7 linked regions of the Homo sapiens genome follow. The protein of the gene in region 4 purifies or fractionates together with the protein of the main gene of each other region. This does not show direct contact. Each region holds a gene or a part of one and is shown on either strand. Other genes may lie near its edges.

Evidence for each region.
Region 1: the proteins of TENM2 (region 4) and TSPAN15 purify together in Homo sapiens (co-immunoprecipitation; one large-scale study listed by IntAct). This does not show direct contact.
Region 2: the proteins of TENM2 (region 4) and PACC1 purify together in Homo sapiens (co-immunoprecipitation; one large-scale study listed by IntAct). This does not show direct contact.
Region 3: the proteins of TENM2 (region 4) and TRDN purify together in Homo sapiens (co-immunoprecipitation; one large-scale study listed by IntAct). This does not show direct contact.
Region 5: the proteins of TENM2 (region 4) and LMAN2L purify together in Homo sapiens (co-immunoprecipitation; one large-scale study listed by IntAct). This does not show direct contact.
Region 6: the proteins of TENM2 (region 4) and DNAJC3 purify together in Homo sapiens (co-immunoprecipitation; one large-scale study listed by IntAct). This does not show direct contact.
Region 7: the proteins of TENM2 (region 4) and PCDHGB5 purify together in Homo sapiens (co-immunoprecipitation; one large-scale study listed by IntAct). This does not show direct contact.

What each region holds. Positions count from the first base shown.
Region 1 is NC_000010.11:69,496,465-69,499,964, reverse strand, and holds part of TSPAN15 (tetraspanin-15), read right to left. Parts: intron 1,757-3,500; coding exon of another isoform or gene 1,686-1,756; coding exon 1,569-1,685; intron 1-1,568. UniProt on the Homo sapiens protein: Part of TspanC8 subgroup, composed of 6 members that interact with the transmembrane metalloprotease ADAM10.
Region 2 is NC_000001.11:212,380,387-212,383,886, forward strand, and holds part of PACC1 (proton-activated chloride channel), read right to left. Parts: intron 1-3,500. UniProt on the Homo sapiens protein: Chloride channel gated by pH that facilitates the entry of chloride ions into cells upon exposure to extracellular acidic pH. Involved in acidosis-induced cell death by mediating chloride influx and subsequent cell swelling.
Region 3 is NC_000006.12:123,630,451-123,633,950, forward strand, and holds part of TRDN (triadin), read right to left. Parts: intron 1-3,500. UniProt on the Homo sapiens protein: Contributes to the regulation of lumenal Ca2+ release via the sarcoplasmic reticulum calcium release channels RYR1 and RYR2, a key step in triggering skeletal and heart muscle contraction.
Region 4 is NC_000005.10:168,256,029-168,259,528, forward strand, and holds part of TENM2 (teneurin-2), read left to right. Parts: intron 1-3,500. UniProt on the Homo sapiens protein: Involved in neural development, regulating the establishment of proper connectivity within the nervous system. Acts as a ligand of the ADGRL1 and ADGRL3 receptors that are expressed at the surface of adjacent cells.
Region 5 is NC_000002.12:96,730,065-96,733,564, reverse strand, and holds part of LMAN2L (VIP36-like protein isoform 2 precursor), read left to right. Parts: coding exon 1-46; intron 47-3,500. UniProt on the Homo sapiens protein: May be involved in the regulation of export from the endoplasmic reticulum of a subset of glycoproteins. May function as a regulator of ERGIC-53.
Region 6 is NC_000013.11:95,680,139-95,683,638, reverse strand, and holds part of DNAJC3 (dnaJ homolog subfamily C member 3 precursor), read right to left. Parts: intron 1-3,500. UniProt on the Homo sapiens protein: Involved in the unfolded protein response (UPR) during endoplasmic reticulum (ER) stress.
Region 7 is NC_000005.10:141,396,794-141,400,746, reverse strand, and holds the start of PCDHGB5 (protocadherin gamma-B5 isoform 1 precursor), read right to left. Parts: upstream 2,801-3,953; 5' UTR 2,620-2,800; coding exon 223-2,619; coding exon of another isoform or gene 163-222; intron 1-162. UniProt on the Homo sapiens protein: Potential calcium-dependent cell-adhesion protein. May be involved in the establishment and maintenance of specific neuronal connections in the brain.

The sequences.
Region 1 (3,500 bases), on a different chromosome or scaffold from region 4:
TGGCCTTCGGGGTACCCATGACCTCCCTGACTCCACCTCCTACCATCCTCCGCTGTGCTCCCTCTGCTCCAGCCACTCTGTGCATTTCTCAAACGCCCTGGGGTGATTCCCACCTGGGGCCTTTGCACAGCTGTTCTTGCTGCCAGGAATGCCCCTCCCCCAGACACCTTCCTCACTTTCTTCAGAGCTTCACCCAGATCCCGCCTTTCTCAGTATCCCAAACTGCAATCCTCCATGCCCTACTTTCTTTTTCTACTCAGCATTTATGATCCTCTATCTTTTACTTATTTTGTTTGTCAGTTTTCTCCACTAGGATGTCACCTCCTTGCGGGCAGAGACTTTGTTTGCTACACCCCCAGAACCTGGAAATGTGTCTGGCATAGAGTAGGTTCTCAGCCAATATTTGTTGAATGAATGAATGAATGAATGAATACAAGTTTGGCTTCCACATCTCAGCTTAGGTATTCAGATGCTGCTGCCCTGGGTGATGAGGTTCAGGATCACCCCACGCAGGCCTCTCTGGAAACTCTGCTACTCCTCAGCACCCCACTTCCCAGAGAACTACCCTAAAATGGCAGCTAACACTTCCAAACAAAGCTTCCCTCCTGGCCCGGCCTTTTTTAGAGCTAGTGCACTTGGCACTGGCTCTCTGACTCATGGGCGAGGCCCCCACCCGCAGCTGCTCAGTTTACAGAATCCAGCAGTGGGCACAGAATGGTGGCAATGTCAGGAGAAAAACTTTCCATGACTATCTGGGCCATGAGTAATTGCAAAGCTCTCCACCTCGTTCCAATCCTGAAACAGTTTCTGGACACATTTGTCAAACACAAGGACTGATGAAGCCTTTCACTTAAGCGCTGACAACACAAGACATCATCCCAAATGACCAAGGTGACAGACCCGAGAGGATCGTGCTGGGGAGAGGAAGAGGATGGCATTTACGTCACCAGACCCCCTTCCAAGCACTCTGCTGCTGATGATCACCAGGACCTCAAGGCCAAAGACCAATGGAGATGCCCAAGGTGCAGGTCCTGCCTGCCTCCACTAATGCTGCAGAGCCAGCTACCCCCGCTAAGCTCCCCTGGCCTGGGCACCTCTCCCTCCTGCCCTCACCTGGCCTGCACAGTTCTCCAGAGTGTAGCTCAGGCAACAGCTGCCTGCACTTCATCCCAGCCCTGCCAACCTTGGGCAAGACACCCAGCCTTTGAGTGCCTCAATTTCCTCATCTGTAAAGTGGGTAAAATAACAGTACATACCTCACAGGGTTGTCGTGAATACTAAATGAGTAAATACCACCAAAGTGCCCAGAGCAGGCCTGCACAAGGTAGGTGCTCAATAGATTTTAACCAACACCACTAAGAAAGACATGGTCTCCCTACCCCCGACCCCCAGAAGCTCCACTTTCAGGAGCCCTTGAGAATCAGGAAAGCCTCCGCTCTGCCACCAACTCCTACTTCCCTGCCATCCACCCACACCACCCATCTTCAAGTTGGGAAGAGAGAAAAGAGAACATTTATACCACCTGGGGTCCCCGACAGCCCCCCAGTCCCCACAGGAGCAGTGTCTACCGTGTTCCTGATGCAGCAGGTGTAGGGCACCCCACAGGCCAGGGGTCCAGGGGCACTGCAGTCGTGGTACTGATTCTTGCTCCAATCTCGGTAGTCCTCCCCGCCACAGCACTTGAACTGAGGGAAGCAAGCAGGAAAGAGGAGCTGCCGTCATCGCCCAGGCCCTGCTCAGACGACAGGAAGGGGCCCTGTCAGGAGACGGAGGCAGTTTATTATGTGGGTCACCCTGGGGCAGGGAGAGGCTGTACACTTTCAAGTCAGAGCTGTCAAAGTGTGGCATGGCTGCCTAGAGGGTAGTGAACCCCCTGTCACTAGAGAGGTATGGAAGCCAAGGCTGGGCTGCCTCTTGGTGGGATATCAGGGTAGTGACTAGGCACTGGGAGGAAAGGTCCTTCCTTGACAACTGGCCTCCACTTTCTTCATCTTCGTGTCCCCAAATGCAGGTGCTAGGCTGGAAAAGATGGCCCTTAAAGTCCCAGAGACCAAGCATGATTCTGTGAAAGTCCCTGCACCTCAACCAACCTTCGCACCCACCCTAGGAGCCACCCCGTCCAGCTCAGCTGGCCCTGCCCTTAGCAAGGAGAGCACCCACACCTCACAACCTGCCTGGAGCTCTCCCCTTAGCCGAGCCCCTCCCTGCCTCCCCTCCCTGCTCCTGTAGGAAGTAGTTGGTAACCCTCCTGATGGCTGGTATGTGCCTGGCATTGTCCTGGGCACTGGAGAGACAGGGTGAGCAAAAGCAAGGCAGCCCTTGCTCAGGTGGAACACATTCCAGTGGAGAGACAGAGAGTGAGCACTGGATGGAAAGGTGCTGTGCAACCTGGAAATGGAGAAATAGGGGGAAAGTGGGGAGGGGCAGCTCTAGGTTGGCAGGTCATGAAAGGGCTCTTTGTAGAGAGGATATTTCATCTGAAACATGGAAACAGAAAGAAGCCAGACGACCCATGCAAAGGCCCCACGCAGAAACAAGCTTGTATTTCAGCAGCAGGTGCGGAGGCCAACAAGCCTGGAACAGAGAGAGTGCAGAGCATGAGGATGAAAGGGCGGCACAGGCTGGACCATGCAAAGCTTTGCCAGCCAGCTGAAGCAGGGAGCTGGGACTGGAGGGCTCAACCAGGGCTGCAGTACACGTCCTGGTAGCCAGACACCTTTCAGAGTCCCCACAGTGCCCCTTAAGCCACCAGGTTTTGGGACCTAGAACTGTCTTTCTGCAATGTAGTTCAAAGGGCATTTGTCTTGCAATGGAACAGACCCAAGGTCAAATCCTCAGACCACCACTCCCTGCTGTGCAACCTCAGGCAAGTTGGTCAGCCTCTCTGAGCCTCAGATGGTTGTCTGTAAAGCAAGAATAAGGATGGCAGCTCTGCACAGCTGAGCTGTGATTACATAGAGTGCCATGCATGAAGCACTCAGCACTGGACCTGGCACCAAGCAAGTGCCCATTCAGCATTAATCACCTCCTACCTCTATGCCAGGAGAAATGAAATCCCCAAGCCAGCTAAAGGCTGGTTCCAATAAAAACATCTCACTCCACCCGGAGCAGAAGTCAGCTCTCCCAGCCCAAGCTGGCAGGCACATCCCTGGCAGAAAAAGACCTTCCAGAGGCTGCACCTGTTGTGACTGAAGAGAAAGTCTGGGCCAAGGGAGCGGCCACAGCAAGTGGCCCTGCATGTGGGGAGAGGCTAGTCCCCACTGAGAGCTGGCACAAGGATCCAGGCCAGCTGAGGCCCCCAAGATTATGTCCCAGGAAGTGCTGTCCCGGCTGAGTGGGCCTGCAGCCCTCACTCTACTTGTCCTCACCCAGGAGAACATACCAATGATCCCCACAGCTGGCACTGTGGTCTCACCCTGTGCTTGGCACTGTTCTAAGCACGTCTCCTGAATTAAGTCAAGGTAATCCTCATGACGACGCCCCAAGAGCTCCTGTCATTA
Region 2 (3,500 bases), on a different chromosome or scaffold from region 4:
ATTTGTCCTATGGAAACTTTAAATTTAACGTAGTAAAACCTTAAATCCTTTTCTTTACGGCTTTGGGTTTTGCTTGCTGAGGAAAGCCAAAATTATATCAATATTCTCCTCTATTTCTTTATAGCACTTTTTAATCTTTTTTACATTTAGATACTTTATATACCTGGCTTTAAGCTCTGTATATAGTGTGAAATAGGGCTCTAACTCCTACTTCCCAAACAATGCATAGAGACAGGTTTTGAAGCCTCTTCCCCTCCCTCCTTTATCCTATACTAAATTCCATGCAGAACCAATATCTATGTCTGCTTCTGGCCCTAGCAGAGCCCACACATTTGTCTGTCTCTGTCCAGTACTGTGCCACTTTGATTCCTGTGGTTTTTCCACTGTTCTGAGATCTGGGAAGGTGCTCTCCCTACTACTCTTCCCCATCCCCAAACTTGTCTTGGTTATTTTTGAACGTGTTCTAAGTATGCTTTAAGACTAGCTTGCTTAGTTCCACAAAAAAATTCACTGGGACTTTTAACTGTGATAGAAACTGAATTTATAGATTAATTTTAGAAAAAAATGTCTTTTACATCAACTTTTATAAATAAATGCTCTACAGAGATTTGAAAAAGAGTGAGTACACTGTCAGTTACAAAGTTTTGTGCCCCCACATGTATACACACACATACATACTCTAAATTTATTAACTGCACTATTCAATTCTTATCCTTTCTAGTTTTTGTCTATTTGATCTGTGAATTTCTGAGAGGGGTGTTTAAATCGTGCTCTAAAGTGATGGTATTTTTTACTTCTAACGGGTTTTGCTTAAAATATATAAATGTCATGCTGTTTTGTACATAAAGTTTTGGAACTGTTCAGTCGTCTTAGTGGAGAGTATGGAGTTGAACCTCTTATCAATATTAAACATCCTTCTTGCAAACTTTTGCACGTGGAATTCCACACTATTAATATTGTCACTTCTGGTTTTCGTTGCATCTTCTCAAGACAGCTTTGTCCATCTATTTATTTTTCAACCTTTCTGTACCATTTTGTTTTAAGTGTGCAACAGAAAGCACTGTCCCTGGTTTCTATTATCCATTTCTTCCTTTAGTACTAGAATGGCTTTCCCAACCCAGATTTCAGCAGAATCCACTCCCCCTGCTGGAGCCTCATCTCTGCCCTCAAATGTAGCCACGTGATAAAGTTCCTAATGTGCGAAAGAAAAGGGGACTCATTCAACTCCACCCCATTTCCTGAAAAGGGAACTGCTTGCCCTCCACCTTCCCAGGCCTGGGCATGTGCACAGACACACACACACACACTGCACACACACACACACACACACACACACACACACAGCCCACATGGACCAGAACAATGCCCAGGGGACAGCACAGTGACACACACACACACACACACACACACTGCCCACATGGACCAGAACAATGCCCAGGGGACAGCACAGTGACAAGACAAAAGTCATGGCTGGACTATCCTATGAGGCAGTACTGCCCACTACGCCACACGGCCTGCATGCCAGGACTGTTCTCAGAGAGAGAAGGAGGCTTCTCCCTCATCTCAGCCATTGTATTTGCAGGTTTTGTTTTTATTTGGTAGCTTAGCCTATACTCTGACTAATACACAATTTGTTAGCTGACACTGGAGTGTTCTTGTTTTTTTTTTTTGAGACGGTGTCTCGCTCTGTTGCCCAAGCTGGAGTGCACTGGCGTGATCTCGGCTCACTGCAAGCTCCGCCTCCCGGGTTCAGGCGATTCTCCTGTCTTGCCCTCCCAAGTAGCTGGGACTACAGGCACGTGCCACTACACACGCCTGATTTTTTTATTTTTATTTTTAGTAGAGACGGGGTTTCACCATGTTAGCCAGGATGGTCTCGATCTCCTGACCTCGTGATCCACCTGCCTCGGCCTCCCAAAGTGCTGGATTACAGGCATGAGCCACCACGCCCGGCTGGAGTGTTTTATGGTTGCAAAAAAAATCAAAATGAGGGAACAGCCAAACATTTGGGCAGTGGGAAAATGGCGGGCAGTAAGGAAATAGATAAGGATCCCGCAGGCTGGAAAGGTGGCAAACCTTATTGTGCCAGAGCAGAGCATTTGGTAAAAAATAACTACCATTAAATTGAGAGCATGAAAGAAAGCACCAGAAAATCAGCAAAATTCCGAAGATTTTACAAATACAACAGGATGAGACCCTCGACTGGGGTCACTTTCACATGAACTTGATTAGATGCGAACAGCCAGAAGCCTACACATTTCTGAAATCTCACTGCAAACATAGGCAGTGGCAGGAGGCAGGTAAGAAGCCGCCCTCCAAGTTTGCAATTGTTTAGCCCTAAAGCTGCTCACACAAGCAGGAAGTGAGTGGCACAAGCTGTGCAGCCACCAGGGAGGGCGTATTTTCTAATGTCCACTTCAGATATGGCCACAGAGCATTACCACCAAGGCAGAAGCTCCCAGGGGACGAGGCCAGAGCACACAGGAGTCTCTTTCTGAGGGCAGCAACAGGTTCAAACCAAGGAGCTTACTTCATGCCAAGAAGGCGTCTCACCGGTCCCACCCTGCAGGGTTCCACCACTGCTGCAGAGCAGAGCTGCGGGCCCTTCCCCTTCTTCCTTTTCCAAATGGGAGCTCTACTGCTCTCATCATATTCTTCCTCCACTGCTATATGCTGGTTTGGGTAGGAAACTTGGTGGATAGGGAGGAGATAACTTCTCTGTTAGTTTATAGCTTGTGGACTTCAAGAAATTGATGGAGGAGATGAACCAACACTCAGACTTGGGGGCAGTAGCTGCATTCAACTTCATTTCCATAAAAACAACTCTCTCTTTGTGCCCTTATTTCAAGGGTTTTTACACTCTTTAGTCGAATTATGTAACTATTGTAACAAGTGCAACTGGCCTACACAGGTTTGGAAATGACCCTCACTGACTCCTCCTAAGCATACACTTCAACTGGGGGAGGAGAGGAGGGCATCCAGAGAATAGGCACCTAGTGGGACGGAAGCAGCCACGAGTTTTCATTAGCGTGTTTTACAGAGAGATGAAGGGAGCTGGGAATCCAGACAAAGAGCTTCTATTATACATATAACTCCACATTGGAATTGTTTAAAAGTTGCTTTCCTTTTTGTTTTAATTAGCTTCTACTTCCCTATTCTAGAGTCCATTCTATTTGTTCATCTTGGTCCTTTTCTGTCATTGGTTTCATGCAAATGTCTGGTGACCATTAATTCTCCATTCTTATTTATGAATGAAGGATTAGGTTGACTAGTATAGGTCTGGGTTTTGGTTTCTTCCAAAGTAGTAAATTTCTGTTTCTCTAATAGGCCTCTCCCTTGCATGGGAAAGCTAAGTATGCTCTGTGGAAGCACACTGAGTTTTCCAGTGTGTTTTACTCTGGGAAGAGTCCTTTCCTTTAGTTCTCTCTCCTTTTCCATTGTAGAAGTCTGCTCTGTTTCCTATGCCTACACAAAGAATCATCTTCCCTTCGCTTCTGTAG
Region 3 (3,500 bases), on a different chromosome or scaffold from region 4:
AAATTAATGCCAACAGTATTGGAGGCCTTAAGTCTCTATGGATTCCTAAGCCTTTAGTATAATAACTGAATAGCCTCAATTCATTTTTGCATTGTAAAAGTAGCATGAATTTTAAATTACAGTCATAATGATAACCAAAAATAAATAGGAAAAAAAATAAGAAACATTTAAGCTCATAAACGGAACATTTTCATGGATACTATGTGCTTATGGGGTGGGGAGAAAAATAGTTCCTATTACAAATAATAATAAAAACTACAAGAAAAAGCTTCTTAACGGAACCTAACAAGGGCTGACACTACACAGCTATATTTTCTGCTCATTGTCACTGCAAATTTTGTATCATGGATGATTTGAACAATTTAAAAAACATAAACTTAATTTGCCAAATAGCATGATCTTGTAAAATTTTTAAAAATTCCTCTGGCCATATTATTTTTAATTAACCAAGTTCATGACCCTTCTTTTGAGGCCCCATCCTCCCCAGACCAAGAGTGGTTGAGTAGTGGAGATAGTGCCTGAACCCCAATTTCTGACTTAAGTAAAACTCCATGCACTTACTACTCTATCACACTCTCTTTTCTTAATGCTTCTTTCTCCCAGCTCTGCACTATATTTTCTCTCTGATTTTCAGTGAACTATACTCTCCTGGTTTTCACAATCTGCTTTTTTTTTTTTTTCTATTTTCCTAAAGTGAACTTGAGCAGTAAAGAATAACAAGAAGTTTCAGAGTCAGACTAATCAGGTTTATGTGATACCTGCCTTTCACAGTTTTTGTGATATTTCAAAGAGATAGTCATACAAAAGCTTCATACTTAATACCCTGTCAATAAATGCAATGTTCCAAGCCATAGCACTTTTTAGAACTATTTTTTCTTGCATCATGTTGACTTCTTAGGCTTTCAAATTGTTCTCAGGTTTTCCCATGACCTATCTCAAAAACAAACTATTTCTAATTAATGTCTCTAATTAATGTTACCAATAATATGAAACTAACCTCCAGATTCCCATATTATAATAGATATTAAAAATGATTACTTCCTTGTCTGCTTTTACAAACATAAGTATATTTCCAGACTACTCTGCTTAATATGAGCATATTTGGTTTTCATTTCAGTAACAACAGACACTGTTCAATTTAGAGAGTAATTTGCACTTACGAATAAATTTGGTGACCAGAGAATTCACTGACCCATATATGTTATGAAAATTAAATTCTTATTAAAAGATTTACTCTACTAACAACATCAACTCTGTTTTTTTTCTTAACTCTTTATTGTGAAGAAGCTTAAATAATCCCAAAAGTAGACAATATTATAATGAAACTTAATGTACCCATTATCAGCCTCAACATAATCAACTAATGGCCAATCCTACCCCACCCACACCCCAACTACTTTCTTCTTGGGCATATTATTTAGAAGCAAATTTCAAATATCACATCACCTCCTTCATAAATATTTGAATGTGTATCTCCAAATAATAAGTAATTTTAAAAGACAACCACAATACGGTTATCCCACTAAAAATATAATTATTCATTAAGGTTATCTAACATCCAGAGTATATTAAATTTTCACTTGTTTCATCAGAATTTTTTAAGGTTGTTTGTTTGAATCATGATCCAACCATTCCATACATTGTGATGGGTTGCTAACTTTTTACATTTCTTTTCATCTGTTCTCCAGATTTTCTTGTTCTTGTTCCCAGGAACTTATTTGAAGTAACTGGGTTGTTTGTACTGTAGAGGTTCCCAGAGCCTACTGCCTACTATGGTGTAGATTTTGGCATATTCCTCATCCCTCTATTTCTTAAAAATTGGAGGCTGTGTATTTCCTTTTCCTTCCCTCCTTTCTTGCTTTCTCTTTTCTTTCTTTCTAGTCAGAAGAGTCAGTTCTAGCTATCATTTTAATGGTTGGTTGGGTTTTGCCTTGTATTTTGCCAATAGTGTGCCTTTTTTGTGACTTCCAGACTTTTATCCATGGGTCTGTGCATTGCCCTCAAGTGCTACATAATGAAAAAATCCAGTCTTCTACTTAAACAAACCATGCACAAATCTTTTCATTTAACTGTGCCTTTCACCATCGTGGTACTCCTCTTTTGAATAGGCTAGCTTTCTAATGTCAGTTTTAAAATGTACTTATAAGACTAAAAATAATATATGTGGTATGTTGCTTTATCAGGAAAATCAAGAACATCTCCTGGAAGTGACCAGGGCTTGAAACTAGTGCTACATCCCTTTGTACCCCCAGCTCATCCCCGCTTAAGCCAGGGCAGCTGCCCTTTGCTTTGATGAGGTAAATGCAGAAACATAGGTTGGATCGCCTCATAATTTCACCATCTGTCATGCTAGATGATATAACTTGTTTGCCTAGTTGTTAAGTAGTCTGGCTGTGAATTCTTGATTTTTTTTTTTTCTTGAGAGCAATAGTGAGTAATCTTGTGCTGCAGACTCTATGGGAGTAATGCAGTGTGTAGAATATAAATGACCATTTTTGCTCTAAATTTTGAATATCAAATCTTCTCATAGGTTTGATTGTTACAGAAGCAGTGAAACGTGATTCGGCTAATGGTAAGGAAAGAATTCCACACATAGTGCAATAATTCTTCTCCTGAAGCCTGAGGTTATGTAATAGTTTATAAGTTGAGAGTTGGATATAAGCTCTTCTAACATTTTAAATAAAAAGCTTTCTTGAACTAAGCGTTCTAGTAAATACTAAGTTAATTATATATGGGATTCCCAGCAACTTGGATACATTACATTGCAAGGAAGATAAAGGACTGTTTATAGCCCTAAACCTGTGTGCTGTTTGAGTGTAATCCAGTCTGGGCCTGATTCAACCTACCTAAATGTAACATGGTCCTAGTGTAGGCTCCAATAACAACCTAATTGACCAACCTAACAGTCTCACACAGTAAGAAGACATATCCAATATGACTCTGTGGTCAGGCATGGGTATGAATCCTAGCTATATCACATACAGTTGTGTGAATTCTAGCACATTCTTTAAACTCTCTCAACTTCAGCTTCCTATTCTCTAAACAGCAATAATATTAGCCTTTATTCTCATTTGGTGGCCCTGAAGATTAAATGAATATTTATCAAGCTTAATACAGTGCTTGACATCTTATGTCTTCAGAATAAATATGTTATCATTGCTGTTATAATTATCTTTATTAATTTATTTTGCCAGAATCAAAGGTGTTATTACCCTAAAATCCTTTGGAGTTCAACTTTGTCCTATTTCTAATTTATCTATTACTCTGTACCTGAAACACAATTCTGTATTTAGCATTATTTCCTTTCTTCCACTGGATGAAGTAAGCCAGCTTGGAACCTGCAGTGGAAATTGATGTGAGCAACTAGGTGAGGTTATAGGCACGACATGCACTGTAGTTGAATAAGCACTGGGATGAGCCATGGGAGGCATGAAATTTATCCTCAGATCTCTCCTAATTTCCCATGACCATGAGACAGTCATATAATCTGTATGAGCCTT
Region 4 (3,500 bases):
CTCCTGACCTCGTGATCTGCCCGCCTCGGCCTCCCAAAGTGCTAGGATTACAGGCGTGAGCCACCGCGCCTGGCTAGAATTTATTTTTTTAATGGATTTACCTAAATGGAAAGGCAAATTTATTTTTTAATCAGTAAATAAATAATAATACAAGTGATACCTAGATATGGCAAATATATATATATGTCTATATGTATATATATGTGTATATATATGTATATATATTTTTAGCAACAGGTGGCCATGAATATTCAAAGTTGAGAAACCAGTGCTCTCCACCCAGGACCTACCTGGTACATAGTAGATGCTCTGTAAATATATGGCTGTTGCCAGATTAAAGCCAGGCTTCTCTCTGCTTGATATTAACGTACTTTTTAAGGGAATTTCAAACTTGTATTCTTTTTTTTTTTTTTTTGAGACGGAGTCTTGCTCTGTTGCCCAAGCTGAAGTGCAATGGCACAATCTCAGCTCACTGCAGCCTCCACCTCCCGGGTTCAAGTGATTCTCCTGCCCCAGCCTCCTGAGTAGCTGGGATTACAGCTGCGTGCACCACGCCCGGCTATTTTTTGTGTTTTTAGTCGAGACGAGGTTTCACCATATTGGCCAGGCTGGTCTTGAACTCCTGACCGCAGGTGATCCACCCGCCTCGGCCTCCCAAAATGCTGGGATTGCAGGCATGAGCCACCTCGCCCGGCCTCAAACCTGTTTCTTAAATGGACTATTGTTATGTGTGTAGATGCCAAGTCTTTCAATGACTAGTCTGTGCCCAAGGAAGGTGGATAGATCAAAGCTCCCAGATTCCTTCTCCTTAGAGGGTTCTTATATATCCATATTTTTGGCAGCAATGTCAACGTTAAATACCTCACAGTAGTCCCAGGGCAGAAGGTAGTTATGCCTGAGCCCCTTCAGAAGTGTGTTCTTAGGCACAGACAGATCCACTGTCACACTACTACTAGTCAGGGTAGCTCTTGCCACATATGTCCTGTGCTCATTCATTCATTCATTCTATAGATACTTACGGAGCACCTATTTTGTGCCAGGCATTGTTGTAGGGCCTAGGGAGACATCAATGAAGAAAACAGGTTTTTAAACTCCCCATGCTGGTGGAGCTTGCCTTCACCAGGCAAGCTGGAGTGAAAGAGACCATAAATACAATAAATGTGGAAATGACACAGCATGTTAGAAGAATGTGACTGTTGTTTTGGGGGGACATGAGCAAGGTAAGGGGACTAGGGATTGCAAGAGGTGGGGATGGGGGGTGGCAGTTGGGGTTGGCCTTACCGGGCAGGCAGAGTCTGAGCAAGACTGAAAAGAGGAGGGAGAGCAAGAGAGGCAGAGGATACGTTTAGGGAAAAGCCCGCTGGGCAGAGGGCCTACCAACATAAAGGTGGTGAGATGAGTGCATCCCTGGCATATTCAAAGAACAGCACAGAGGCAGGAGCGAGGGAGAGCATGGGAGATGTGGTCAGACAGGTCGTGGAGAGGGCCCTTCCAGGCCATTAGAAGGACTTTGGCTTTTTCAATGAAAGAAGTGGGGAGACCCTGGGGTGCTCTGAACTTCTCAGGAATGTCATGGGCAGCTCCTGATTTTTTTTTTTTTTTTTTTGTGACGGAGTCTCACTCTGTTGCCAGGCTGGAGTGCAGTAGCACGATCTCTGCTCACTGCAACCTCTGCCTCCCGGGTTCAAGCGATTCTCCTGCCTCAGCCTCCCAGGTAGCTGGGATTACAGGCACCCGCCACCACGCCCAGCTAATTTTTGTATTTTTAGTAGAGACGGAGTTTCACCATGTTGGACAGTCTGGTCTCAACCTCCTGACCTGGTGATCCGCCTGCCTTGGCCTCCCAAAGTGTTGGAATTACAGGCGTGAGCCACCGTGCCCGGCCAGCTCCTGATTGAAAGGCTCACTCAGGTTGCTGTGCTGATAAGGAATGTGGGGTGCAGAGCGGAAGCATGGAGGCCAGTTAGACATCCCTCGGGAGGTGCTGAACTGAGTAGAGGCAGTGGAAGTGGCGAGAGGAGACACATACTCAGGACCTATTGTGAAAGTAAAAGTAAAGGATTTAGCTGCATGACCCGGCAATTCCACACCTACACATACACACAAGAAAACGGAAAACAGGCTTTCAAACAAAACTTTGTGCAGGAATGTTTATAGCAGCATTATTCATAATAGTAAAAAAGTGGAAACAGGCCGGGTGCAGTGGCTCATGCCTGTAATCCCAGCACTTTGGGAGGCCGAGGCGGGCAGATCACGAGGTCAAGATATGGAGACCATCCTGGCTAACATGGTGAAACCCTGTCTCTACTAAAAATACAAAAAATTAGCCGGGTGTGGTGGCATGCACCTGTAGTCCCAGCTACTCGGGAGGCTGAGGCAAGGGAATCACTTGAACCCAGGAGGCGGAGGTTGCAGTGAGCCGAAATCGCGCCACTGCACTCCAGCCTGGGTGACAGAGCAAGGCTCAGTCTCAAAAAAAAACCAAAAAGTGGAAACAACCCAAATATGTATCAACTGGTAAATGGATAAACAAAGCACACTGCATGCTCCACAATGGATGAAACTTAGAACCTTAAAAACATCATGCTGAGTGAAAGAAGCCAGACACAAAAGGCCATGTATCATGGGATTCCATTCATGTCAAATGTCCAAAACAGGTAAACCCATACAGACAGAAAGCAGTTTGTGGGAGGGGTAATGCAGAGTGACTACTAATGGGTATGAGGGGCTTTGGGAGGTGATGAAAATGTTCTGAAATTAGTAATGATGGTTGCATAACATTGTGAATGTACTGGAAACCACTGAATTGTGCACTTTCAAATGGTGAATTTTATATGAGTTTTACATTTTTTTTTTTAAAGGGAAATGATTAGGCCAGGCACAGTGGCTCATACCTGTAATCCTAGCACTTTGGGAGGCCAAGGTGGAAGGATCACCTGAGGTTAGGAGTTGGAGACCAGCCTGGCTAACATGGCAAAGCCCCGCCTCTACTAATAATAATACAAAAATGAGCCAGGCGTGGTGGCGGGCACCTGTAATCCCAGCTACTCAGGAGGCTGAGTGAGTGTTTCAAGGCACGGACATCCAGGAATCTCTATTGATCAGTGTGGAAGGAGTCTTTTTCTAAGGACCTAGACCATTCAGCAGAGGGCAGGACACTTGGGGCAGGTGGCATAATTCCCAATGCAAGGACTTGATGTTGGCCTGTGTGGCAGGTGGTCTTACTCTGGGCAGTCAGTACCCTTTCTTGGTTTCTCTTTAAAGAGTAGGAAGGCTGGGCCGGGCACGGTGGCTCATGCCTGTAATCCCAGCACTTTGGGAGGCTGAGGAGGGCGGATCACCTGAGGTCGGGAGTTCGAAACCAGCCTGACCAACATGGAGAAACCCTGTCTCTACTGAAAAATACAAAATTAGCCAGGTGTGGTGGCGCATGCCTGTAATCCCAGCTACTTGGGAGGCTGAGGCAGGAGAATTGCTTGAACCTGGGAGGCGGAGTTTGC
Region 5 (3,500 bases), on a different chromosome or scaffold from region 4:
GGGAGTATTTGTAGACACCTACCCCAATGAGGAGAAGCAGCAAGAGGTAATGGCAAGTGTCAGAGCCTAGGTCAGCTACACTGACATCACAGTTCTTTGCCTCAGGAATGTTGTACAGGAGGGAACAAAGGAGATAGAAAGTGAGGGGTTCTTCATCTGTTGAACTTTGAAAGTTAATGTCCTTGTCAGTGTTTTTTTCTAAAGGGACTATTTAGGAGTGCACAGTCTTTTGGGAATAGCTGTCTTGAACAGGGGCTTTTTCTTTAGTGATAATCATGTTCTCTCTTGTGCCTATTAGATAGCCACTAAAATTGAGCATGTTTGGTTGATTGGTGATTTGGCTGCTAGACCAGCACCAGAGCAAGCTGAATTTACGTAACTCAGCCTCCCCTGACTTTTAATCCATCAGTGCTGTGCTCTCTTCTGCAACTTGCACACACTTTTCAGCTTCTTTTTCTTCTTCTTCTTCTCAGACCTGAAGAACAGTTCTCCTCGCCTATAGAAAAGGCTATAATTGGCCAGGTGTGGTGGCTAACACCTGTAAGCCCAGCACTTTGGGAGGCCGAGGTGGGCAGATCACCTGAGGTCAGGAGTTCGAGACCAGCTTTGCCAACATGGTGAAACCCCGTCTCTACTAAATATATAAAAATTAGATGGGTGTGGTGGTGGGTGCCTGTAATCCCACCTACTCGGGAGGCTGAGGCAAGAGAATCACACCATTGCACTCCCCCCTGGGCAGCAGAGTGAGACTCTTGTCTCAAAAAAAAAAAAAAGAAAGAAAGAAAAGGCTATAACGAGAAGGAAACTGATGAAAGCCCAGCATTTTGTTGGAACCTAGTATCTGGCTGTTGGCAGGCCTTTTTGTTACCTGACCTAAGAGTTTTTTAGTGCTTTCTTTTTTTTTTTTAATTTTTTTTTTTTGAGACAGAGTCTCACTCTGTCGCCCAGGCTGGAGTGCAGTGGCGCGATCTCGGCTCACTGCAACCTCTGCCTCCCAGGTTCAAGCTATTCTTCTGCCTCAGCCTCCCGCGTAGCTGGGACTACAGGCGCATGCCACCACACCCAGCTAACTTTTGTATTTTTAGTAGAGACGGGGTTTCACCATGTTGGTCAGGATGGTCTCGAACCCCTGACCTCGTGATCCGCCTGTCTCGGCCTCCCAAAGTGCTGGGATTACAGGCGTGAGTCACCATGCCCGGCTATTGCTTTCTTATATTGACAGTGGGTTTGTACTCTCTCTATGTCCTACGGCACTGCCATCAGATGGTGGGAAATTATGACAGGTTGTTGCTGGGTATCCTGTAGCTAAGTACCTAGCGAGGAAATCAGGATTAGAAATAGAGGCAAAGGTCACATTATTTTTTTCCTCAAAGGTTTATTATGAAAATTTTCAAACTTAAAAAACATTAGAAGGCCAGGCATGGTGGCTCACGCCTGTAATCCCAGCACTTTGGGAGGCCGAGGTGGGCAGATTACTTGAGGTTAGCAGTTTGAGACCAGCCTGGCCAACATTATGAAACCCTGTCTCCACTAAAAATACAAAAATTAGTATTTTTATTAGTATTAGTGTTAACCTGTAGTCCCAGCTACTTGGGAGGCTGAGGTGGGAGAGTCACTTGAACCTGGGAGGTGGAGGTTGCAGTGAGCTGAGACCACGCCATTGCACTGCAGCCTGTAATCCCAGCTACTCAGGTTGCTGAGTCAGGAGAATGGCTTGAACCCAGGAGGCGGAGGTTGCAGTGAGCTGAGATCACACCACTGCACTCCAGCCTGGGCAACAGAGCAAGACTGTCACCAAAATAAACAAAAAAAATTAGAAGAATAGAGAATGATCATTGTATCTGTGATGCTTAGATTCAACAGCTGTTAACATTTCCCACAGAACTCACTTTTTATTTTTTATTTTTTTTATTTTTTGAGATGGAGTCTCGCTCGTCTCCAGGCTGGAGTGCAGTGGTGCAATCTCGGCTCACTGCAACCTACATACACCTCCTGGGTTCAAGCCATTCTCCTGCCTCAGCCTCCTGAGTAGCTGGGATTATAGGCACACGCCACCACGCCCAGCTAATTTTTGTATTTTTAGAGACAAGGTTTCACCATGTTGGCCAGGATGGTCTCCATCTCCTGACCTCAGGTGATTCCTCCACCCTGGCCTCCCAAAGTGGTGGGGTTACAGGTATGAGCCACTGTGCCCAGCGAGCTCACTTTAAAGGTGGTGGAATGTGAGACCTGAGTTAGGAGAATAACCTTTTGTTGTGGATCAGTTACAGCTGCTTCTCTGTGTTCCTTCTGGGCTGTTCTTCATTCCACATACATTAACCACTTTCTAGGTGCCAGGCCCTGGGAATTAGTGAGCAAGATAACATGGTCCTTGTACTCAGTAGCACTGAGAATGCTGATGGGGGAACTCTGGGGCACTATGGGAGGACACAGCAGGAGCTTCTAACCTGAAGTGGGGCAGTAGTGTTGGTGGTAGTGGGGAAGGCTTCTTCCAGGAAGTGCCTTTTAGGTTGAGGTCTGCAGAGTAAGGAACCCGTGTCCCATGCAGAGGGAAAAAAGCCGAGGTCCTAAGGTTAAGAGAGGGGATGATGAGGCTGGGTGCAGTGGCTCATGCCTGTAATCCCAGCACTTTGGGAGGCCAAGGCGGGTGGATCACGAGGTCAGGAGACCGAGACTATCCTGGCCAACATGGCGAAACCCCGTCTCTACTAAAAATACAAAAATTAGTCAGGTGTGGTGGCATGCTTCTGTAGTCCCAGCTACTCAGGAGGCTGAGGCAGGAGAATCGCTTGAACCTGGAAGGTGGAGGTTGCAGTGTGAGCTGAGATCACGCCACTGCACTCCAGCCTGGGCGACAGAGTGAAACTCCATCTCAAAAAAAAGAGAGAGAGAGGGGATAATGAGTGTGTGGAAATAAAGTAGAATCAGAGACAGATGAGGCTAGAATGAAAAGCAGGGCCAGTAGTCTTGTTATGTTGCACAGTTCCTAGGGCTGCTGTTCACCTTGCATTCTACAATATTAACACTGTAGCCTCGGCATGTTAACTAGCCGCTGAGACTGACTGGCATCTGCTTGGGTGGTTGGTGGCTGAACTGTTTAGATGAGAGCCAGAGCAGACTGAATGTATGTGACTCATGCTCACCATATACCACTTGGGGCCAAGTTCTGAAGGATTGTGTTCCTGTTGAGGAGTCTGGACTTGATTCTGAAGGGGTAGGTACATTAAAGGATTTTATTGAAGAGAGGATCATGACTGGATTTGTAGTCATGCTGAGGAAATAGTGGTAGTTAGAAATGGATCTGAATAAGAGTTATCAGCTTTAGGGCCTGACAAGAGTTTTAAACTTGTCTCTCTGTTTCTTCCAGAAACAAATTGTTCAAACTCTGTTAGCTTCCATTTCACCATGAGATAGTAGTAATTCTGGTTTGAGAAAGTAGAAATTCTGACTTGGGTTTATTTTGTAAGGATTTTGTAGATGTTAATTAAAAAAAATTTATT
Region 6 (3,500 bases), on a different chromosome or scaffold from region 4:
GGGTAATTTATAAAGAAAAGAGGTTTAATTGGCTGACGGTTCTGTAGGTTGTACATGAAGCATGGCTGGGGAGGCCTCAGGAAATTTACAATCATGGCAAAAGGTAAAGGAGAAGTAGGCACATCTTCACATGGCCAGAGCCGGAGGAAGACAGAGAGGGGGGAGATACTGCACACTTTTAAACAACCAGATCTTGTGAGAATTCTATCACAATAACAGCTCTGGGGGATGGTGCTAAACCATTAGAAACCACCCCCATGATCCAATCACTTCCCACCAGGCCCCAGATCCAACACTGGGGATTACAGCTGAACATGAGATTTGGGTGGGGCACAGATCTAAATCATACCACCCCACCATTACACAATATACCCATGTAACCTGCACATGTATATCTTGAATCTAAAATAAAATAAAGTTAAACAAAAAAAAAGATTCTGCCCTCAAATGCTGGCTCCTTTGTGAAACCTTCCCTCACACTGTATTGTTTTGAGAGAGGGAAAAAAAGCTCCTTCAATCTTCCTATATTTTGCATTTCCACACTCAGAAGTACATGACTTCACTTTGCAATATCACTCTCTCTATATATTGCTTTTCACAATTTGCCTGCTTCTCAAAGTCCCAACTCCACAAAACTTATCAAAAGCAAGTTTGAGAGGAGGAGCTGTCTTTTCTTCTTTGTATCACCTAATTCAGTATCCCGCACATAGTGGGTATGCAATATTTGTTGAATGAATTTAACTATTTGCCTTTTTACTTAAACGTATTATAATTCATCAGAATAAAATCTAAAATACATAACAATTATCAAGTCAAACATATGATCAATGATTCATAAAGACACATCTGAAAAATCAAATTATTTGCGAATTATTGGCTGTTTTTGCAATCCACTCTCTTTTGAGCCACAGGTAATTTTTATTCCTTTGCCACATGGTCTGTAAACATTATTTTCAGAGAGGTAAGACAACCAAACATCATGCCATTTCCTAATCAGCATTAGACAATAGGTTTCTCCTTAGACAAGCAGTGATCATAAGTCAGCAAAATAAGCAGCAAGGGCAGGGAAAAAGGTAGAGTAGCCAACTATGTCTTTCACTGAAATTAGTATTAGAATATCTTATATTTTGGAGAGCAGAAAATAAGGATTTTTTTAAACTTAAAGGTGGGGGGTTAAAGGTATGACGTGAGTTACAATCAAGACTGGAAGAACCAGACTAAAGGAGGCAAGAACTCATAGTCAAAGATACTAAAGTTCAAGCAAAGGCGGTGGCAGACCCAGACCAGAGAGCAATCCCAGAGAGAGAGATGGTTATTCAGGTTGGAGCACTTAGAATATGAGGAATGAGGAAAGCCCTAAGTTTCTTCTCTAAAAAAGAACAGAAGGCTAAGCCAAGACTCTAGCAAGGTGGGGTAGAGTCTAAAAGAAGTCTTGTAGCAGAAACACAGAAGACAGTGGAATCTAGCCAAAGAAAGATAGTACAGGAAGTTCAGCATCTACTATTATCTGAATGTTCTCTCCAAAATTCAGGTTGAAATTTTTTTTATAAATTACTCAGTCTGTGGTATTTTGTTATAGCAGCACAAAGATACAACTGTAGGAGCAACATTTTCAGAAGGTGAGAGGAAATGGAATCCAGGGTGTAAGTACACAGATTAGATTTATCTGGGAATAGAGACATTTAATGTATTTCAATATGAGAAAAAGTAGCAGAATAGGTACAAATGTAGATAAGCTAGTGAATTTTGAGGTAGAAAGAAGAACTTGCCTTGTGATGGCTTTCATTTTCTCAGTAAAGACAAGGTCTAAAAGAATGAGGTAGGGGAGAGAGGAAAGGAGAGTTTAAATTAGAGGCTTCAGAAAGGAGGAAAATGTTTGAAATATTGATTTTCAAGAATAGACATAGTAAAGAATTGTGGGAGTGTTAGCAGTATTTAATGTGCATTTGCGACTGAGATTGTTTCTTTAAAATGAGACTAATCAGGGCCAGGTGCATTGGCTCGTGCCTGTAATCTCAACACTTTGGGAGGCCAAGGGATGAGGATTGCTTGAGCCCAGGAGTTCAAGACCAGCCTGGGCAACATAGAAGACCCTGTCCCTACAAAAAATTTTAAAAACTTAGTAGGGGATGCAGTGGTGCATACCTGTGGTCCCAGCTATTCAGGAGGCTGAGATGGGAGGACTGCTTGAGCCCAGGAGGTCAAGCCTACATTGAGCTAGGATCATGCCACTGCACTCCAGCCTGGGTGACAGGGCAAGACCTTGTCTCGAAAAAAAATTGAAAATAAAAATAAAGATAAATGAGACTAATCAGCAAAGTTGTCTCCATTTTCCTCCGTCCGTGTTTACCTATAAGGTATAAAAACAGTTGGCCAAGTTGAATTTAACCAGTGTTGGGTTTTGGCAGGTGAGTAAAACAGAAGATTACAGGGGCCAGAAAATAAATGGGCATTTGCAGTACACTAACTACAATAATGGACCACTCAGTCTAAAGCGGGAAAGGAGAAAAAGAGGACGTGAATGCTTCACAAATGCATGTCTTAAACCCTAAGTGGTCTGTAAACTCAAAAGCAAAAGCCATGAGTTCTATGCTACGTATATATACCTCACCAAAGAGCAATATAGTTAGTAAAAGCCTTTGCTGACTGATTAAATGAGTCTTCTCCATATTCCAGAACTCCAAATGATACAAACTCATCAGATTTAATTTTTTTAAGTAGCTTTCTAAAGATATGGAAAGAAAAATAAATCTATGGTTGAAATGTTTGCGTTCTGAAGAGCAGGTGAATGGGTTCCCATGATACTTCCATATAAACAAAGATTAACTGCAGGACACTAATCAAAAGAGACCACAGCAGTAGAAATTAAACTTAACAACAATTAATTAACTTCATATGGGAAAATAAAACCTAATTACTACAGTGCATCCCCTCCCAGAACAACTTCCCCTACCTCACAGAATGAAAACCACTGCATTTCCAGGCAGTTTCTCAGCAAATACTAACTATGTCAAGAGAACTGGAACTTTGATACTACTGCTAACTACAGCCTATCTTATTAAAGAATTTAAAATAATTCTAGAAAATATGTGACCACCTTTTATGATACTTAATTTATTTAAATTACTTAAAGTCACTCATTTTTGCTACTTTATTCTTTCCCTATTTAGATAATGTCAAGAAAATCCTAGAAAAGACAAAACATACCTTTAATAGGTTAGGTTCAAATAAAACTTATCATGGTTCAAATAAAACTTATCACAATATTTTATACGTATAGATTTTCAACTATATATTTTCAACTATTCTTTTCCCCATGGCCAAAATATATGGTTTAATCAGCTCAATGAAATAAAGAAAAATTGGGTCCAGATAGCATGTTAAGGAAGAAAAAGAGATAAAACTATGATAAGAGAAAAAAGGTTTCGTTCCCAGGCTGTGTTGCTACTCAAGTCACCAAGAGGACAAACCATTAGCAAAGAAATGAAATAACTTCCTTA
Region 7 (3,953 bases), about 27 Mb from region 4:
TAAGAGCAAACTCTCACTACTTTGTAAATCTATAAGGCTACTTCTTTTATGCGACATAAAAACTCACAATTTACTGCTCCTCTTAAAGAATGGTAGGACAGCTTTCTGAGCAGCTCTGACTTCCCTAAGACAACTCATTGGACTTGAAAATGTACGATAGTTTCATGTAAATACAGAAAATTGGGTGGGTAATGAAAAAGAATAGACATAAATGAAACTCACCAACTCAGGATGGGAAGTCGACTCGCTGGAATTACAAAGTGGAAATAAGGCCCCAGATGAATCACCACAAAGTATGTCTTGTCCTGAACTCAATTGCTCACTACATTTTAGGAAATTAAACTCCGTCTTTCCTGTATGTGCAACACATAGGTTGTAGGAATAAGGCAAAGTCCCCTGACTGTAGTTGGGGGGAACCACAGGTCCAGACTTGACACAGAGACCAGGTTGGAAGCAGCTCCAGGCGGCAGGGCTGGAGGAGCGTCGCAGGCGCAAGGCAACGGCCAGAATCACGGCCAGGAGGAAGAGCACTGAGATCAAGGCCAAGGCCACCACTAGGTAAAACTGCAGCTCAGCCTGGGGGTCAGAGGGTACAGGGCGGTCAGTGATATCCGGCAGCACCTCCTGCAAGCTGTCAGCAAAGACCAAGTGCAGCGTGGCGGTGGCGGAGAGTGGCGGCTGTCCACCATCACGCACAGCAACCAGCAGGCGCTGGCGGGCCGCGTCCCTGTCGCCCAAGGCACGCGCTGTGCGCACCTCTCCTGTGCGCAGCCCCAGGCTGAAGAGCCCGGGCTCGCTAGCCTGCAGCACGTGGTAGGACAGCCAGGCGTTGTGTCCTGAGTCTGCGTCCACGGCCACTACCTTGGTCACCAGGTAGCCGGGCTCTGCAGCGCGCGGCACCATATCGAAGAGCGCAGAGCCGTCGGGACCCAGCGCGGGGTACAGCACCCGCGGTGCGTTGTCGTTTCGGTCGCCCACCAACACGCGCAGGCTCACGTTTGCGCTGAGCGCAGGCGAGCCCTGGTCGCGGGCCTGTAGTGTGAGTTCGAAGGTGCGCAGCTGCTCGTAGTCAAAGGCGCGCTGCGCGAACACCACCCCACTTTGCGCGCTCATGGACACGTAAGAGGCCAGTGCCAGAGGCTCTAGGTCGCTGGCCATGATAGAGTAGGAGACTTGGCCGTTCAACCCCAAGTCCAGGTCCGAGGCGCAGACTTGCGCGATGGAGGCCCCAGGAGGGTTGTTTTCGGGTACACTGACTAAGTAGGACGCCTGGTGGAAAACCGGAGCGTTATCGTTGACGTCTCTGATATGTAGGATGACGCTTATGCTGGAGGAGAGGGGCGGCTTGCCCCTGTCTGTGGCTGTGATGGTGACATTGTACTCCGGGGTTTGCTCTCGGTCTAGGGTTCCATCTGTTACCAACTTATACGAATTTTTGGATGAAGAGATAATCTTAAAAGGGACTTCGCCTTGTAATTGACAATTAACCTCCCCATTTTCCCCAGAATCTTGGTCATGTATTTTGATCAAAGCAATTAGTGTTCCAGGCACCGCGTTTTCCAGAATCATTTCAAGTAGAGAATGGAATGTAACTTCTGGGCTATTGTCATTTTCATCTTGAATATTAATTTCAACTGTACATTGTGCAACCAGTCCACCACCATCCCTCCCTTCTACAACCATTGAATATTCCTTGGTCTCTTCAAAATCCAGTTTCTTTTGAGTGGTAATTTCTCCGCTCTTTGAATTCAGACTAAAGATTTGCCCGGTTCTGTAGAAGGAATAAGTAATTTCTGAGTTGATGCCCTCGTCTTGGTCAGTGGCTGACACTTGCAACACAGTGGTGCCTGGTGGCACGTTTTCCCGAAGGCTGACTCTGTACACGTCTCGGTTGAATACCGGGGGATTATCATTGGCGTCGGTTACCTGGATCCGGAGCTCAGTGGTGCCGCTTAGGGGTGGATGTCCACCGTCCAAGGCAGTCAGGACTAAACGATGGTAACTCTGTTGTTCCCGGTCTAAGGTTTTCTCCAGTGCCAGTTCCGGGTATTTACTACCATCCTGTTTCTCCTTAATTATTAATGAGAAACTTGGGTTAAGAGAGAGTTTATACTTCTGCAGAGAGTTTAAGCCAATATCTGCATCTTCTGCTACTTCTAGTATAAATCTTGTGCCAGGCTGTGCAGACTCACTTATTTGCAGCTCAAAGGAATTTTGCGTGAATTTTGGCGTGTGGTCATTAATGTCCTCGATCTCCACATTCACGTGATAAAAGTTCAGTGGATTTTCAGCAACAGCCTCAAATTCCAGAGCACAAGCTGGCTTCTTCCCGCATATCTCCTCCCTGTCTAGCCTGCTGCTCACAAGCAACTCCCCGCTCTCTGCGCTCACGGTGAAGTAAGGCTTCTCCGAACTGACGCGCAGTTTTCGAGTCGGTAACTCCTGGACGCTGAACCCCAGGTCCGTGGCGAGGTTCCCCACTACGGAGCCCTTGGGCATTTCCTCGGGAATCCTGTAGCGGATCTGCTCACAGAGCGCCGGGCAGAACAAAGACAGCAGGAAGAGAAAGAGCACTGGCAGCCTCTCAGCCCGGCCCAGCTCCCCGGCGCCGCTCCCCATCCCTCTTGCTCTCCTCAGCTTGCTCACCAGCCTGGAGACGCCAGGTTACAAATAACCTCTGTATTGTAGATTTTTGGATCTCCGAACGGGCTTTAGTTCCAGTTCCAGTTTAGGAAACGATTCTTTTTCCGAGGAGGAAGCGGTGTAAAGGCCGGCGCTGGGGAGTCTGAGCTGGGGCTGCCCTGGAAAGCGCGCTGCGGCTGCGCGAGGAGATCTGGAGCGCCAAGCTCTGCACTTTGGCCAACAGCGGCGCCCAGAGTCAGCACTAGGAAACTACAGCCTCTGCGGCTTCAAGTTAACCAGTGCAGTAATTGTTTTTGTGTGCCTAACTTAACAAGCCAAGTTTTTACGTCCATATACTTAATAAAAAATTATAACAACTTCTTTAAGGTATCTTTCTCTGTTTTCCAAATTGTTAGAAATATCACGTTGGGTTTTTATACAAACCTGCATACATTGGTCCATTCTTTCACCATTCTGCAAACATACCTTGAACTCTTAGCTAGAACTAAGTATTGCCCTTGTCACTGGCAATATAATAATTAATATGATACAGTTCTTGCTCTCAGAGCCTTCATACTATACTGATTTCAAAAATTCATTTTTTATTAGCTATGGAAACAATTTTATCATTCTTCTGTTCATTTCTATGATTTCCAACTCCCCAATATTTCTAGTGTTTTATATTACACATATTAGGGAAATCTATACTATTTAAAACTATTTTGTAAAGTTGTGGCAATTTTATACCAATCCCCAAACATCTCCTCTTCCTGACTATATTAACATTCTTTATAAAAATAATTTTTCTTTACTCTTCTACTTCAGGAAATATTCATTCAAGTATACTGCCCATATGATGTAGCTAAGAAATGATATACCCTACTACGTTGCTCTTCTTCATATCTCAAAATACTTCTCTTATGTCATATCTTTTACAGTACATAAATTCATTCTTAAGAGTTATTGGGGAAATGCTTATCTATTCTGCAATACAAGGTACAAAGGGATATTCTAGTGGATTGCATTATTATCCTATCTGAAATGACTTTGGAATTGGATAAATGAAGCTCATAAGTTCATTTACATAAATTTGTGGACATTGGTCAACCTTCTTTAGTCCATTTGTCAGATTAATAAAAACAACTAGCCAACATTTTTAGGGAGAGTAAGGATTTTCTTTCCTACCAGGGCAACTTTCATCCGAGTTTTTAAAATTGCAAAGTGCCAATAATATGTTGTCCTCTCAAATGTGCATCCAAATGGTACACAAACTATGAAGTTAACTCCCACTCCACTGAATATGCACCATACAGTAGAACACTACACAATCC